Linked DNA regions of Homo sapiens. The protein of the gene in region 3 interacts with the protein of the main gene of each other region in a biochemical or structural test. Each region holds a gene or a part of one and is shown on either strand. Other genes may lie near its edges.

The links. Proteins that work in one complex are often made in the same cells at the same time.
Region 1: the proteins of PAX6 (region 3) and VSX2 form a complex in vitro, tested with the Homo sapiens proteins (one study listed by BioGRID).
Region 2: the proteins of PAX6 (region 3) and IPO13 form a complex in vitro, tested with the Homo sapiens proteins (one study listed by BioGRID).
Region 4: the proteins of PAX6 (region 3) and TBP form a complex in vitro, tested with the Homo sapiens proteins (one study listed by BioGRID).

What each region holds. Positions count from the first base shown.
Region 1 is NC_000014.9:74,238,217-74,242,248, reverse strand, and holds the start of VSX2 (visual system homeobox 2), read right to left. Parts: upstream 2,801-4,032; 5' UTR 2,688-2,800; coding exon 2,318-2,687; intron 1,068-2,317; coding exon 983-1,067; intron 1-982.
Region 2 is NC_000001.11:43,963,950-43,966,235, reverse strand, and holds part of IPO13 (importin-13), read right to left. Parts: intron 1,968-2,286; coding exon 1,915-1,967; intron 1-1,914. UniProt on the Homo sapiens protein: Functions in nuclear protein import as nuclear transport receptor. Serves as receptor for nuclear localization signals (NLS) in cargo substrates.
Region 3 is NC_000011.10:31,787,594-31,792,220, reverse strand, and holds the end of PAX6 (paired box protein Pax-6), read left to right. Parts: intron 1-1,360; coding exon 1,361-1,511; intron 1,512-1,896; exon of another isoform or gene 1,897-2,201; coding exon 2,202-2,287; coding exon of another isoform or gene 2,288-2,591; 3' UTR 2,592-3,195; downstream 3,196-4,627. UniProt on the Homo sapiens protein: Transcription factor with important functions in the development of the eye, nose, central nervous system and pancreas. Required for the differentiation of pancreatic islet alpha cells.
Region 4 is NC_000006.12:170,567,869-170,571,368, forward strand, and holds part of TBP (TATA-box-binding protein), read left to right. Parts: intron 1-1,743; coding exon 1,744-1,911; intron 1,912-3,500. UniProt on the Homo sapiens protein: The TFIID basal transcription factor complex plays a major role in the initiation of RNA polymerase II (Pol II)-dependent transcription.

The DNA of each region.
Region 1 (4,032 bases), on a different chromosome or scaffold from region 3:
TGATGGGGACGGAGTGGGGTGCGGGGAAATAGCTCCGAGGTGAGCGCCGGGGCAGCACCTGCGAGCAGCACCCGCAGAAAGGCAGGCAGATTTTTGGTTCTTTCTCCTTTATTTCCTTGAAAACCACCTTACAAATGTACCCAAGGAACTGGTAGCAGTGCGGCTGGTGCGGAAGGGAATGAGGGCGGGGGTGGGAGAAGGGTAGGTTACTTTTCAAGATATACCTGTCGGCATCTACTGAGTTTTAACTTTGTGCAAGTAATTTCCATTTAAAGACAAAAACAAAACAAAACAAAACAAAACAAAACCCTTTCTAGTCTGTACCCCGATGCAGTCCACCCTACTCCAGCTACGGCTGGTGGGACCGTCCAGTCTACATCGCCTACCACTCCATTTTGCAGACGAGGAAACTGAGGCTCACAGAAGGGAAGCGACTCGGTCAGAATCACGAATGAGCAGAAGCCAAAAGAAAATGCTCTGTCAGTGCAGAGATCGCTCCAGCTTTGGAGAACGGTGGGAGCAGAAAGCTTAGGGAGTTGGCAGAGAGGACAGGGACCCCGGGAGAGAAATGGGGGCGGCGGTTGAGGCCGAGGGCAAAGAACCGGCTCTGGCAGGAGGTGGGAGCTAATCTGCCCGCCGCCGGGTCTGTGTGGCTCTCAGAATGTACTGGTGCGGGGATCTGGGGACCGCCCCCACTCTGTGGCTCAGTTTGGCCTGTGTTGGAGCCTTTCCTTTCTCCTGAACAAGGAGGAGAAAGCCCGAACCGGGCCGCTTTCCCGGCGGCCACTCATCCTGCTCAACCGGTGCCGACGCCAAGGCCCCCGGGCAGATTCCGCCAAACAACCCGTGGTCTGCGCCCTGGCACGGCCTCGGACCTCAGATCCGTTGTCGGCGAAAATAGGGTCCGAGAGACCCGATCCCGGAACGGGGGACGGCAGCGGGGTGCGCGGGCAGGAGAGGTAACAGAAAGCGGGGGCCTCACCTGTGTCGCCGCTTCTTCCGTTTCTTGGTCTGGTTTAAAGCAGATTTGGACATTTTTCGATCGCTGGAGGAAACATCTTCAGAATCTGAAAAGCGGGCGTAGGGACATGCGGCAGAGTGGGGGACGCGCTCCGCTGTGCCCGAAACCCGCGAGGGCCCCACCCCGGGCTGCCTCCGCGAGCGGCGGGGACCTGCTCTGTCTCCCCAGGAAGCCTGCGGGCGCCCCGGTGGCCGTCCCATCCCTGAGCTCAGGCTGACCTCTCCCGCGCCGGGGCCCGAATCCGGAGGTTTTGAACAGATTTCGTTGTAAGAGAGGCAAAGGCCCCGGCGCGCTTGGGACCGGGACGACGGAGAGCGAGGCAGCCTTAGGGGGCCGCAGAGATCCCCGGCAGCGCTCGCGACCCTGCTGCGCCCTGCCCTGCGCGGCCAGCCCCAATGCCCCGGGCCGGAAAGTTGGCCTCGAGGAGCGAGGAGCGGAGCGGAGGCGTGGGGAGCTGGGCTCCGGGAAGACTGGGGGCTGCCGAGCACCGTCCTTTTCGCAAGGCGGCACAATGCGTCCCTACTCGAGGCCCGAGAGCCTGCGACGCGCTGGTTTTCGTTGCCTTTCCACGTAAAACAAAGTAAAACGCAACGAAAAATCGGGGGAATTGCCAAGCTCAAACAGGAATCGGAGGTTCGAGCGGGCCGCGACACACCTCCCGGAAAGCAGCGCGGGGAGAAGGCGGAGAGGTCACCCAGGGTCCCCGAGCCCGCGCGTCCCCGGGCTCCAGTATATAGTGGCGCTTACGTGGGAGAGGATGGCGGCCGCTTTAGCTGCCGCGATGGCCGGGTTGTCTGAGCTCGTGGGGGTGAAAAATAAACCCCAGTTGACCAGCGCGGGATTTGGGAATCAGACAACTTTGGACACCAGGGATGGGGCCGGAGCCGGAACAGCATCGGGCTCGAGGAGTGCGGATCCTACACCAGGCCGGGGCCGCAGTGGAGCAGCGGTGCTGGGGCCCTCCGACACGGCCGGCGACTCTGCACCACGGGCTCCGACACCCCAAACCCAGTTTTCAGTGGGGCTCCAACAGAGTGCCGTGGCCGAGCCCTGCCCGACGCGGGGACTGGAGAACTGCGCGGCCGCCCGAAACGCTTGGGGCCGAAACCCTGCGGACGCCGAAGCATCCTCCCGGGCCCCATCACCAGGCGCGTCGGCCCAAGGCCCAGGCGGCGACCCCCGGCCTGGCAGGAACTTTTCCGCCTGGAGGCCTGGTCCAGCAAGCGAGAGCCGACGGCGCGGGGCTCCCGGCTGTCGCCCCCCAGTCAGGCAGCAGCGCAACCTCTCCTCACCTACCCGAGCTGGCCGTCTGGCTGGTGTCCAGCGGCCCCGATGCTCTGCCCAATGGCTGCAAGTGGACGCTCTGCGGGTCGGACAGCACTTCCAGGAAGGTGGGCTGCGTGTAGAAGCCAGGGAGCCCCCCGGGCCCCAGAAGCCCCATGCCGCCCACCCCCGCGGGGCTGAGCACTGAGCGCGCCGCCAGCAAGTGCCCGGGGGCCAGGCCGTCGAGCGCTGCCCGCGGGTGGGAGCTCGGGGGCTCCTTGTTCAAGCCCAGGATCTCCTGGATGCCGAACCCAGTGCACCTGGCCGGGGCGCCCCCCGAGGTACTCTTGGCCACTGTCTCGGATTTGGGCTTGCTCAGCGCTTCCCCTGCTTTCCCCGTCATCTCCCTGTTCTTTGGAGGGGCTGAGGCCGCAGGTCTTTAGCTCCCCCCACCCCCCCGCCGGGCTTCCCGCTTCGCGAAGTTGGTCCCAGGTGCCCCCTCCGGTGTCTAATGCTCTGGAGCCCAAGGAGATTCCCCTTTTATCCAACCAGGCGGCAGCCCAAGTGGGGTCAGAGCTGAGCAGCCAATCACCGGGGCCAGGAGCGATTAGGAATTCCAAAAAGCTGGCAGCTCCCGCCGCAGGCAATGTCGAATGGCCAGGGTGCTGGGGGTGGAGCACCGGGTGGGCTCTGCAGGATGCCCATGGGCAGGGACCCCAGGGGCCGAAGTGAGACAACCAGGTTCAGGTTCAGGGCTGTTCCGGGAGGCAGAGTGGCTTGGGGCTCTGGGCAGATTCTGGCAGGGACAGGTCCCTGAGGTCAGGTGGAAGGATGGGCTAAGGGCAGAGGTGAGAGACTGGGAGACCTCCTTCCCTCAACTCCTATGCAGGTTGGCAGCATCAGGGCGGCCTGAATATGGCACCTCTGTGTAAACGGTTGAACAAGGGAGAGGTAAGTGCTGGGGCAGTGTGTGTGGTGGTAAGCTGGGAAAAGATCAGGCCAAGGTGTGCAGAGGGTGATGTAGGGGTAGGGAAAGTTTGCTTCCCCAGCACAAGGTATAATGCCTAGTTCGGAAGAGCTACTCAACACATATTGGCCCAATGAATGAATGATAAATGGGTCAGAAAGAGGGGTCCCTGGTGGGAAAGAGGAACAGTGATGATTACTTTTGGAGAACAACCATGGACATCCAAACCTCTTCCTAGAGTAAGCATGAAGCATGCCCAACTTTCATGGGAGGACTTGATTCTTCCACCCAATTCATTCGACTAATATGTATTGAGCTACTAGCTCCGACCTGGTAGCCAGGGGTTCCGCAGTAAATCAGACAAGGCAAGGGCCCTGCTATACTTCAGAGTTCATTGAGCAAACAGAATGAAGAGGAAGGGATTGTTGATGTGGAGGGAGAGGAAGGAGGAAGCGGGTGAGAGGAAATTAAAAGGTAAGCTGCTTTCCCCTGCACTCCACCACCTCAGCTAACTCTTCTGTGACCTTCTTGGGGCTGGGAACTATCTTATCGACCTTGAGGCTCCCTTCTTCACTGCGCCTAGCATATGGTCAGTTCATGGTAGGTTCCTTGAATTGAAGGCACCCTATGGGGAGATAAGGACTAGGTCCATTGCTTTAAGCAGAGATTGGAAAACCAGGCTGGGAAGATTCCATCCAGGATTTCTTAGCCAGTCAGGTGCAAACCCCCAAATGGAAGGAAACCCCCTAGCCATACCTGGCCTATTGCCAAGGTGTCTGGT
Region 2 (2,286 bases), on a different chromosome or scaffold from region 3:
TGACTTCATGTTGATTCACAGAGGGAGTTAAGCACCCCCAGTTTGTGAACAGGGTAGCAGGAAGAAGAGATGGCAGCCAGACAGGGAGCCCTCAGCCCAACAGCCCTCCTCCCATGTCCCTCCTGTATTCCTGAGGCACCCTCCAGCTCCTGCTCAAAAAGAAGAAAAGTACAGCAGGAGCCTTGGAGCCTCAGCCCCATCTTTCACCCAGGGTACCCTGTGTCCAGGCCCTCTTCGGCCATACACACACCAAGGAGCCAGTGCTGCTGTGGGTGAGGGGGAAGAGATGAAGTGAAGGGGGCAGATGGCCTGCCCCGAGTGGTACCAGGACATGACTGGCACATCCTCAGGTCACAGGAGATGCTCTGCACAGCTCCAGTCATCCTCAAACACTGCTGCTCCCCAGCAATGCCCCCAGTGCATACCACATAGACCTCTACCCTCCAGCCCCTCACATCCCCTCTACCCCCCATGTTTACTCATGTGCAAACACCCCCACATGCACCATCACTTGAAATGCCCTCCTTACACACTTCTCTAACACCGCTAACATACACACACTCTCCCCATCTGGAACACACCCTCATTACACAGTCATACACCAAACACCTGCACATCCCCAAACCATGTCCACACACCTACACCCTCAGCCTTCCCACAGTCCCCCTGTGCACTCTTCCAACATACCCATCCACAAATACACATTCAGACACCCTCCGCATCAAAGATACACCTTTGAAAACACCCACACACATATCCATCCAGGCCCAGAACACTCCCTATTCTTCCCTCCTCCCACCCTACCCATCCCCCAGAAACTAGACTTGTAAGTTCCAGGAGAGCAAGAACTGTGCCTGGTTTTGCTCGCTATCATATCCTCAGTACCTAGCAAAGTACAGCATGTATCACACACTCAATAAATATCTGTGGAATGATTAAGCAAAGAAACACTCCATTTACCCCAATTCACAGGTTAGGGGGTCTGCGTGCTAGGATCCCCTAACACACAGAAGCCCCCATCACACTAACTTCATACCCCCACAGCCCAACATGCATCTCCAAACCATACTCTGATACAGACATACCAATGCCACAACATACACTCCTATCCTCCATAATATACACTCCGACAACCCAACACACACACCTCCAACACACGTCCACGCTCTAAATCCATCAAGGCCTAACACATCAACAAACAACACAAAACACACAACACATCAACATACAGCACACATCAAGGCACACATTCATCTCAGCACCCAACACAATTCACATACTACTTACAGGTGATTTCTGTTCCCTTCCCAAACCAAACTCAAAACATACAAAATAAGGTCTCACACACTGAAACACATACAAAATGCAAACACATCCTAGCATGGAGCCTGCACTCCACCTCCTAGCAGCAGCTCAACCTCTCCAACAGCCCAACTCTGGGCTCCACCGCGCACATTCCTCTTCAGCCCCTCGCTTTGGAGCTGCTCCCAGCCTACCTCTCAGGAGCAGGCTGGGGGCACTGAGGCAGGCAGTTCCCGGCAGGAGCACGGGGACAGTGTACCCCAGACCCTTCAACTCCAGCCCTACACGTGAACTTCTTGGGCAACAAGAAGCTGCTGGGCGCAGTCACCACCCCCTCCCTTTCCCATTCCCCACCCGATGCCAGCCCAGCTCCCTCCGTTTGGGATCAGCCTCTCCCTGGTCTTTGTAGAAGACTGAGCTAGTGAGGCATAGGGGCACTAAAGGAGGATGTTGGGTTGTCAACTTCCACGGAAACAGATGAAGAAACTCTATTCAACTGAACAGAAAAAAAATTTGTCAACAGAAAGCTAAAAATAGGCTTAAATTGAATTTCAACATAAGAGAAAGAGAAAGAGAGAGAACAGAACGTGAATGAATAAAACTAAAACACACCTGTGCCAGGAGTTGCATAAATGAATCAACAATATCAGGATGATCCCTGGGCCCTAAAATATAATAAAGATGGAACTTAAGAAAAAATTATACAAACAGCAACTCAACCTCATATAGTTATGTGGGACTGAGAGCCTGCAGGGAGACAGCGTGGGGGCACATGAGCAGCAGGAAGCAAGATAAAGAAACAAAACATACAAAAACCATGAACTGGGAGAAGCCCAACAGAAAGAGACGGCAAAGTGAAGGACGGGCCTGCCCCAGCTCCCTCCAAGGGGCCTTCCGCCTACTCCCCACTCCTCCTCAGGCCATCCCCTCATGTTCCCTTGGTACTTGAGCAATTCTGGACTCCATATAGCTGAAGAAACGGCC
Region 3 (4,627 bases):
AGGAATTAGAAACAAATGCAAGCTGAAATTCTGGCAGGCCCTCAAGGCCTGTTTGCCTCTTTGAACTTGATGTTAGCATTCATCATCTGACTTTAATAAGGCCACAGAGTGTCTCGTTCAGTTTCATGTATTATAACAACATCCAGGTTTCTGTGAAGATAGCAAAATGTGTATGTGAGAAAATAATAAGACGAACAAGTAGATGCTGCAATTATATTAGGGCTGTTTCCACATACAGAGCGGTATGGGGAATCAATCTATTTCAAACACTGACTTTTAAAAATTACATAATTTGTATAATTCAAAAAGTACATGCATTCATTAAGCATAAAGAAAATCAAAATGATCAATAACTTTACTCTTCAGAGAAAACTACTCTTTGAATTTTGGAGTGGGTGAGCCCGATTGTCTATCCATTTATTCATTCTCTTGACCAAAATCATCATTTTACAAATGGTGGGTGTCTTCCTCTGGACCTTCTCTGATATGCTTCCCTCTCTGAGCATATGGATTTTGGAAATTAAACATTTCTCCAGTTTGCAGAGAAGAGAAATGATAGTATACTGTACTATCATCTGACCTGCTTGTTCCCGACACACTTCTTTTAATTCATCCCAAGTTTGCTGCCATGGCATAGTACCATGAGAGCTCATGAGGCGTTTTGTTAGGAGAAAGGTTTACCTCCTCAGTGCTGCCATTCCGAACAGTTCGAGGGTAGCAACAGTTTTCTAGTTATAAGTCAGTCTGGGCTTTTGGGTCTGTTAGGAAGTCATGGTTAATTCTCAGGATGGAGGTCGTTATATTTACTAACACTTCTGATCACTTTAACTTGGGGTCATTACAGATCTGCTTCTTCAAAGAATCTTTAATCCCATCAGTGAAAGGTTCCCAAGGTCCCTGAACCATACTTTACTGAGAGCTCCTCCCACTGCTCTCTGTCCCAAAGCTTGAGATATGGGCTCTGGGGGTCATAGGGTTCCCAAATAAATCCAGATTTGCAGGGAGAGGGGATGTGTTTTGATGAAGGTCCTCATGCTATAGGTTCTTCAAAGATGCTAGCAGAGGTTAGAGACAAAAATCCTATTAATTTATGGATAGTGGCAACCATCTAGCTGGACAGTTGTCAGAACCTAAAGTGCTTTAGAGGCTTGATACATAGGCAGCTTTCTTCTAGCTGTGGCCAGTGGAAGGACTAGCTCGAGGCCCAATCTTAGATTTATCATATGGAATTCCAGTACTTCACGTGAAGGCATCTTTAATGATCAGACTTGTTGGCAGAGTTCCTCGGGAGGAGGGAGCCTGGGGCTGTGGCTGTGTGATGTGTTCCTCAGTAACCACAGGTTTGCCTCTCTCCTCACAGCCCCCAGTCCCCAGCCAGACCTCCTCATACTCCTGCATGCTGCCCACCAGCCCTTCGGTGAATGGGCGGAGTTATGATACCTACACCCCCCCACATATGCAGACACACATGAACAGTCAGCCAATGGGCACCTCGGGCACCACTTCAACAGGTGAGCCACTGCTTTCTGCAGGCTGCACAGAGGCGATCTCTCTTCACTAGAAGTTTACCCAAACAGAATCTCCTGGTCTTATGGGAGGGCGTGTTTAACTCCTTGCTTTCCTTGTCCCTGGGGGATGGGGATTGAAAAGGGAAATTCAGTTAAGCTAATTAGTAACTTTACACCATATAGACAAAAACTAAAATTGTTTTTCCTGAATTTGGTCACAAAAGTTGTGTATGAAGACAAGGCCTGAGACTGCAAGTTTTCTGAGGACAGATTATTAGACGAAGCTCAGTAGGGGGCCCACTGAGCTGTAGGTGCGTGCTTGTTGAAATGCTTCTTGCCCTCATAGCTCCTCTAGACCTTTTGCTGGAAATAAAAAGTGACACATTGGTTTTCCAGAGACAGCTTTATTGTAAAAGTTCCAAACATGCAAACAAACAGAGGATTTTTTTTTTCTTTTCCTTTGGATTGGGGTGGGGGGTACTTGGGATCCAATAGGTATATATACATATATTGTCTAGTTTCTGAAGGTGCTACTTTTATTTGTAACAATTGAAGTGATTTTAATACAGTAAAAAATGTTAGAAAGTATTAGTTTTTTTTTTTTTTTTTTTTTTTGTAAACCTATAAATTTGTATTCCATGTCTGTTTCTCAAAGGGAATATCTACATGGCTATTTCTTTCATCCACTTCTAGGACTCATTTCCCCTGGTGTGTCAGTTCCAGTTCAAGTTCCCGGAAGTGAACCTGATATGTCTCAATACTGGCCAAGATTACAGTAAAAAAAAAAAAAAAAAAAAAAAGGAAAGGAAATATTGTGTTAATTCAGTCAGTGACTATGGGGACACAACAGTTGAGCTTTCAGGAAAGAAAGAAAAATGGCTGTTAGAGCCGCTTCAGTTCTACAATTGTGTCCTGTATTGTACCACTGGGGAAGGAATGGACTTGAAACAAGGACCTTTGTATACAGAAGGCACGATATCAGTTGGAACAAATCTTCATTTTGGTATCCAAACTTTTATTCATTTTGGTGTATTATTTGTAAATGGGCATTTGTATGTTATAATGAAAAAAAGAACAATGTAGACTGGATGGATGTTTGATCTGTGTTGGTCATGAAGTTGTTTTTTTTTTTTTTAAAAAGAAAACCATGATCAACAAGCTTTGCCACGAATTTAAGAGTTTTATCAAGATATATCGAATACTTCTACCCATCTGTTCATAGTTTATGGACTGATGTTCCAAGTTTGTATCATTCCTTTGCATATAATTAAACCTGGAACAACATGCACTAGATTTATGTCAGAAATATCTGTTGGTTTTCCAAAGGTTGTTAACAGATGAAGTTTATGTGCAAAAAAGGGTAAGATATAAATTCAAGGAAGAAAAAAAGTTGATAGCTAAAAGGTAGAGTGTGTCTTCGATATAATCCAATTTGTTTTATGTCAAAATGTAAGTATTTGTCTTCCCTAGAAATCCTCAGAATGATTTCTATAATAAAGTTAATTTCATTTATATTTGACAAGAATATAGATGTTTTATACACATTTTCATGCAATCATACGTTTCTTTTTTGGCCAGCAAAAGTTAATTGTTCTTAGATATAGTTGTATTACTGTTCACGGTCCAATCATTTTGTGCATCTAGAGTTCATTCCTAATCAATTAAAAGTGCTTGCAAGAGTTTTAAACTTAAGTGTTTTGAAGTTGTTCACAACTACATATCAAAATTAACCATTGTTGATTGTAAAAAACCATGCCAAAGCCTTTGTATTTCCTTTATTATACAGTTTTCTTTTTAACCTTATAGTGTGGTGTTACAAATTTTATTTCCATGTTAGATCAACATTCTAAACCAATGGTTACTTTCACACACACTCTGTTTTACATCCTGATGATCCTTAAAAAATAATCCTTATAGATACCATAAATCAAAAACGTGTTAGAAAAAAATTCCACTTACAGCAGGGTGTAGATCTGTGCCCATTTATACCCACAACATATATACAAAATGGTAACATTTCCCAGTTAGCCATTTAATTCTAAAGCTCAAAGTCTAGAAATAATTTAAAAATGCAACAAGCGATTAGCTAGGAATTGTTTTTTGAATTAGGACTGGCATTTTCAATCTGGGCAGATTTCCATTGTCAGCCTATTTCAACAATGATTTCACTGAAGTATATTCAAAAGTAGATTTCTTAAAGGAGACTTTCTGAAAGCTGTTGCCTTTTTCAAATAGGCCCTCTCCCTTTTCTGTCTCCCTCCCCTTTGCACAAGAGGCATCATTTCCCATTGAACCACTACAGCTGTTCCCATTTGAATCTTGCTTTCTGTGCGGTTGTGGATGGTTGGAGGGTGGAGGGGGGATGTTGCATGTCAAGGAATAATGAGCACAGACACATCAACAGACAACAACAAAGCAGACTGTGACTGGCCGGTGGGAATTAAAGGCCTTCAGTCATTGGCAGCTTAAGCCAAACATTCCCAAATCTATGAAGCAGGGCCCATTGTTGGTCAGTTGTTATTTGCAATGAAGCACAGTTCTGATCATGTTTAAAGTGGAGGCACGCAGGGCAGGAGTGCTTGAGCCCAAGCAAAGGATGGAAAAAAATAAGCCTTTGTTGGGTAAAAAAGGACTGTCTGAGACTTTCATTTGTTCTGTGCAACATATAAGTCAATACAGATAAGTCTTCCTCTGCAAACTTCACTAAAAAGCCTGGGGGTTCTGGCAGTCTAGATTAAAATGCTTGCACATGCAGAAACCTCTGGGGACAAAGACACACTTCCACTGAATTATACTCTGCTTTAAAAAAATCCCCAAAAGCAAATGATCAGAAATGTAGAAATTAATGGAAGGATTTAAACATGACCTTCTCGTTCAATATCTACTGTTTTTTAGTTAAGGAATTACTTGTGAACAGATAATTGAGATTCATTGCTCCGGCATGAAATATACTAATAATTTTATTCCACCAGAGTTGCTGCACATTTGGAGACACCTTCCTAAGTTGCAGTTTTTGTATGTGTGCATGTAGTTTTGTTCAGTGTCAGCCTGCACTGCACAGCAGCACATTTCTGCAGGGGAGTGAGCACACATACGCACTGTTGGTACAATTGCCGGTG
Region 4 (3,500 bases), on a different chromosome or scaffold from region 3:
ACTTGGTAGAAGTCAAAAACTAGGGGGAAAATTAGTGACATTAGCTTCATAAATGAACTGAACAAATAAACTAAAACTTTTTAAATGAAAGAGTATTAAATGTACTTGGAGGTATCAACACATAGAAGGGGGCTGTGGATATTTTTGCTTATTCTGAAGTTTGAAATTGTCTTTCAGTGATGGGAATGCCATTGGTGTGGACATTCTGGCTCCTGATCTCCGAGGTTTTTCAGAATGCAGGACAAGGATGTGTTCTTGCCTTTCACTTCCCCTTGGCCACAACATGCAGTAGTAACCTCTTTAATTAAGAGCGTTTTTGTTTGCTTGTTTTCCCCTGCATGGAACATCAGAAACTTTTGGTTTATCAAGGCAAGCTTTTCATGCAGCATTTAGCCTTTTTGTCCCAGAGCATCTGAAAACTGAATATTGTATATGTAGTTGGATGACTATTTCATCAAGACAAGAAACCACCAATACATTTACCTGAAATTTAAAAGCGTAGCATATATATATATGCTTGATTTTTGTTCTTCCTGATCCCCTGCACCTGATAGTCTCTTTATGGTAATATTTTCACATTCTTTTTTGTTGTTGTTGTTGTTTTTGAGATGGAGTCTCGCTCTGCGCCCAGGCTGGAGTGCAGTGGCATGATCTCGGCTCACTGCAAGCTCCGCCTCCTGGGTTCACGCCATTCTCTTGCCTCAGCCTCCCGAGTAGCAGAGACTACAGGTGCCCACCACCATGCCTGGCTAATTTTTGTATTTTTAGTAGAGATGGGGTTTCACTGTGTTAGCCAGGATGGTCTCAATCTCCTGACCTCATGATCCGCCTGCCTCAGCCTCCCAAAGTGTTGGGATTACAGGTGTGAGCCACCGTGCCCGACCTGCCTGCCTGCCTTTTTCTCTTTTATTTTTTCTTTTTTTCTCTTCTTTCTTTCTTTCCTTTTCTTTTTTTTTTTTTTTTTTTTTTTTTTTGGTGGAGTCACCTAGGCTGGAGTGCAGTGGCACAATCTTGGCTCACTGCAACCTCCACCTCCCAGGTTCAAGTGATTCTCCTGCCTCAGCCTCCCAAGTAGCTGGGATTGCAGGTGCCTGGCACCATGCCCAGCTAATTTTTGTATTTTTAGTAGAGATAGGGTTTCACCATGTTGACCAAGCTGGTCTCGAACTCTTGACCTCAGGTGAGCTATCCGCCTTGGCCTCCCAAAGTGCTTGGGATTAGAGGCGTGAGCCACCATGCCTGGCCCACATTCTGCTTTTCTTATGTAAGCTCTGAACTGCTAAGTCGTAGTTTATTCAACAAATGACATAGGAATGTCTATTCATGATGAGTCTTGGTATAAAAGAGGATAGAATTAGTGAATACATTGTTCAATAATAAATCTCATCAACATTTTCTGATCAAAATGAAGTTTGTTAGTTTTCCTCTCAGTAGAAATGCATGGGCTAAAATACAGAAATAGTGATGACTGATGATGGTGATAATTCACATCCATAAAATCTAGGGCTACAATAATTTGGCGGATTGAAAGGTCATTTTGGCAGGCCTACAGTTTTCTGTCAAGGATCCAGGAATACTTTATAAGGAATTGTGAATGCCTGTCAGTCTTTTCTCCTATTGCAAGAAGGCTGACCAGTTTACACTTTATTAGTTTACTGTTTTGGACTTTTTATAAGTTATTAGTCTAAATAAGTATTTTAGCTGGCTCTGAGTATGAATAACTCACTTTTTTCCTTTCCCTAGTGAAGAACAGTCCAGACTGGCAGCAAGAAAATATGCTAGAGTTGTACAGAAGTTGGGTTTTCCAGCTAAGTTCTTGGACTTCAAGATTCAGAATATGGTGGGGAGCTGTGATGTGAAGTTTCCTATAAGGTTAGAAGGCCTTGTGCTCACCCACCAACAATTTAGTAGGTAAGTCTGAAATGTATTATGATTGTTATTGGCAACAGTTCATTTATAATCTAAACATTGTTCAGAATAAAACACATGCAAAATATTCAGTATATGAGAACAGTTGACATGGTTATAGTTGTATGTATTCTTGCATTGTCTTCCTGATGTTCTCAGTCATATTTATCACCCTCACCAGCCTCTGCTTCCCTTATCACTTTGCGGTACCCATAACTCCCCTTTACTGGAATGAATTTGATTCTACTTCTGTATGTTTTATCGTTTTATTGCTGAATACACTTGGAATGCATGAATTGACCCTAACCTTGTATCAATTTTTTTTCCCAGTTTGGATCTTCTCTTTTAGTCAACATTGTGTCAGATCTACCAGCAAAGTGTGAAGTTGAGCGATAGGAACAACTTTCTAATTATCTTCCCTGCTACTTGCAGGTGAAGACTCACAGGCAGGCAGCCCTGCCCACCTCACTGCTTCATCTCATGGTCTTCTGGTGTCTGTTCACAGGCACATTAGTTCTGTGTGCCCCTGGGGCTCACTTGGTTCCTCCTGCCCTAGGCCTTTGCACTTGCCACTTTTATGCCTAGTATGCTCATTTCCCTTTTCACCTAGGAAGCTCCCACTTGAGTTCCATATGTCTACCCATTCCACTCTTCCTCAGAGAAGCCTGTCCTGAATTTTGTCTTAGGTCAGACACACAGAAACAGAGGCATCCTGTTTTCAGTCTCTCCGAACTGAGAAAAATGAGATTACTAGGCTTAGAAGAATATGTACCAGGCCTGGCCTGGTGGCTCACACCTGTAATCCCAGCATTTTGGGAGGCCGAGGCAGGCAGATCAGTTGAGTTCAGGAGTTCAAGACCAGCCTGGCCAACATGGTGAAACCTCGTCTTTACTAAAAATACAAAAATTAGCTGGACATGGTGGTGCATGCCTGTAATCCCAGTTACATGGGAGGCTGAGGCAGGACAATCATTCGAACCCAGGAGATGGAGGTTGCAGTGAGCCAAGATCGTGCCACTGTACTCCAGCCTGGGCGACACAGCAAGACTCCGTCTCAAAAAAAAAAAGAATATATACCAATAGTCCATTCAGTCAGACAGCTTAATCAGGTATAGGTTAATTCTCAGGCTAGTATATAAGTTTGATTAAATTTCCTGACCACAATTGTCAGCTAGAGAATATTTCAATTTAAGGAGGTAAGATATGATTAAAAGTTAAACTGTCAGTATTGGATCTTAGAAGTAAATGATTATTAGGACTGTAATAGTAATTATTAGGACTGTAAAAGTAAAGGATTATTATCTGCATTAGATATCATTATATCTAATGATATAGAGACTGCAGACATAACTACAGGGCTCTTTTTCTTAAATCAGAAAATCCAGATTCAATAGAAATAGGGTAAAGTGATAGGAGGACAAATAGCCTTCCATCCAGTGGTTATCAACTGACGACTACAAGTCGGCCTCACTTGCTTTAATTATTCTATTCTATCCTTTGATGCTGCTTGAAGAACTGTGTTTTACCTCTTGACTAGTTTGTTTATTCAGTATTTTTCCTTGTACAGGTCCTCATTTTATCTAAAAGCACAC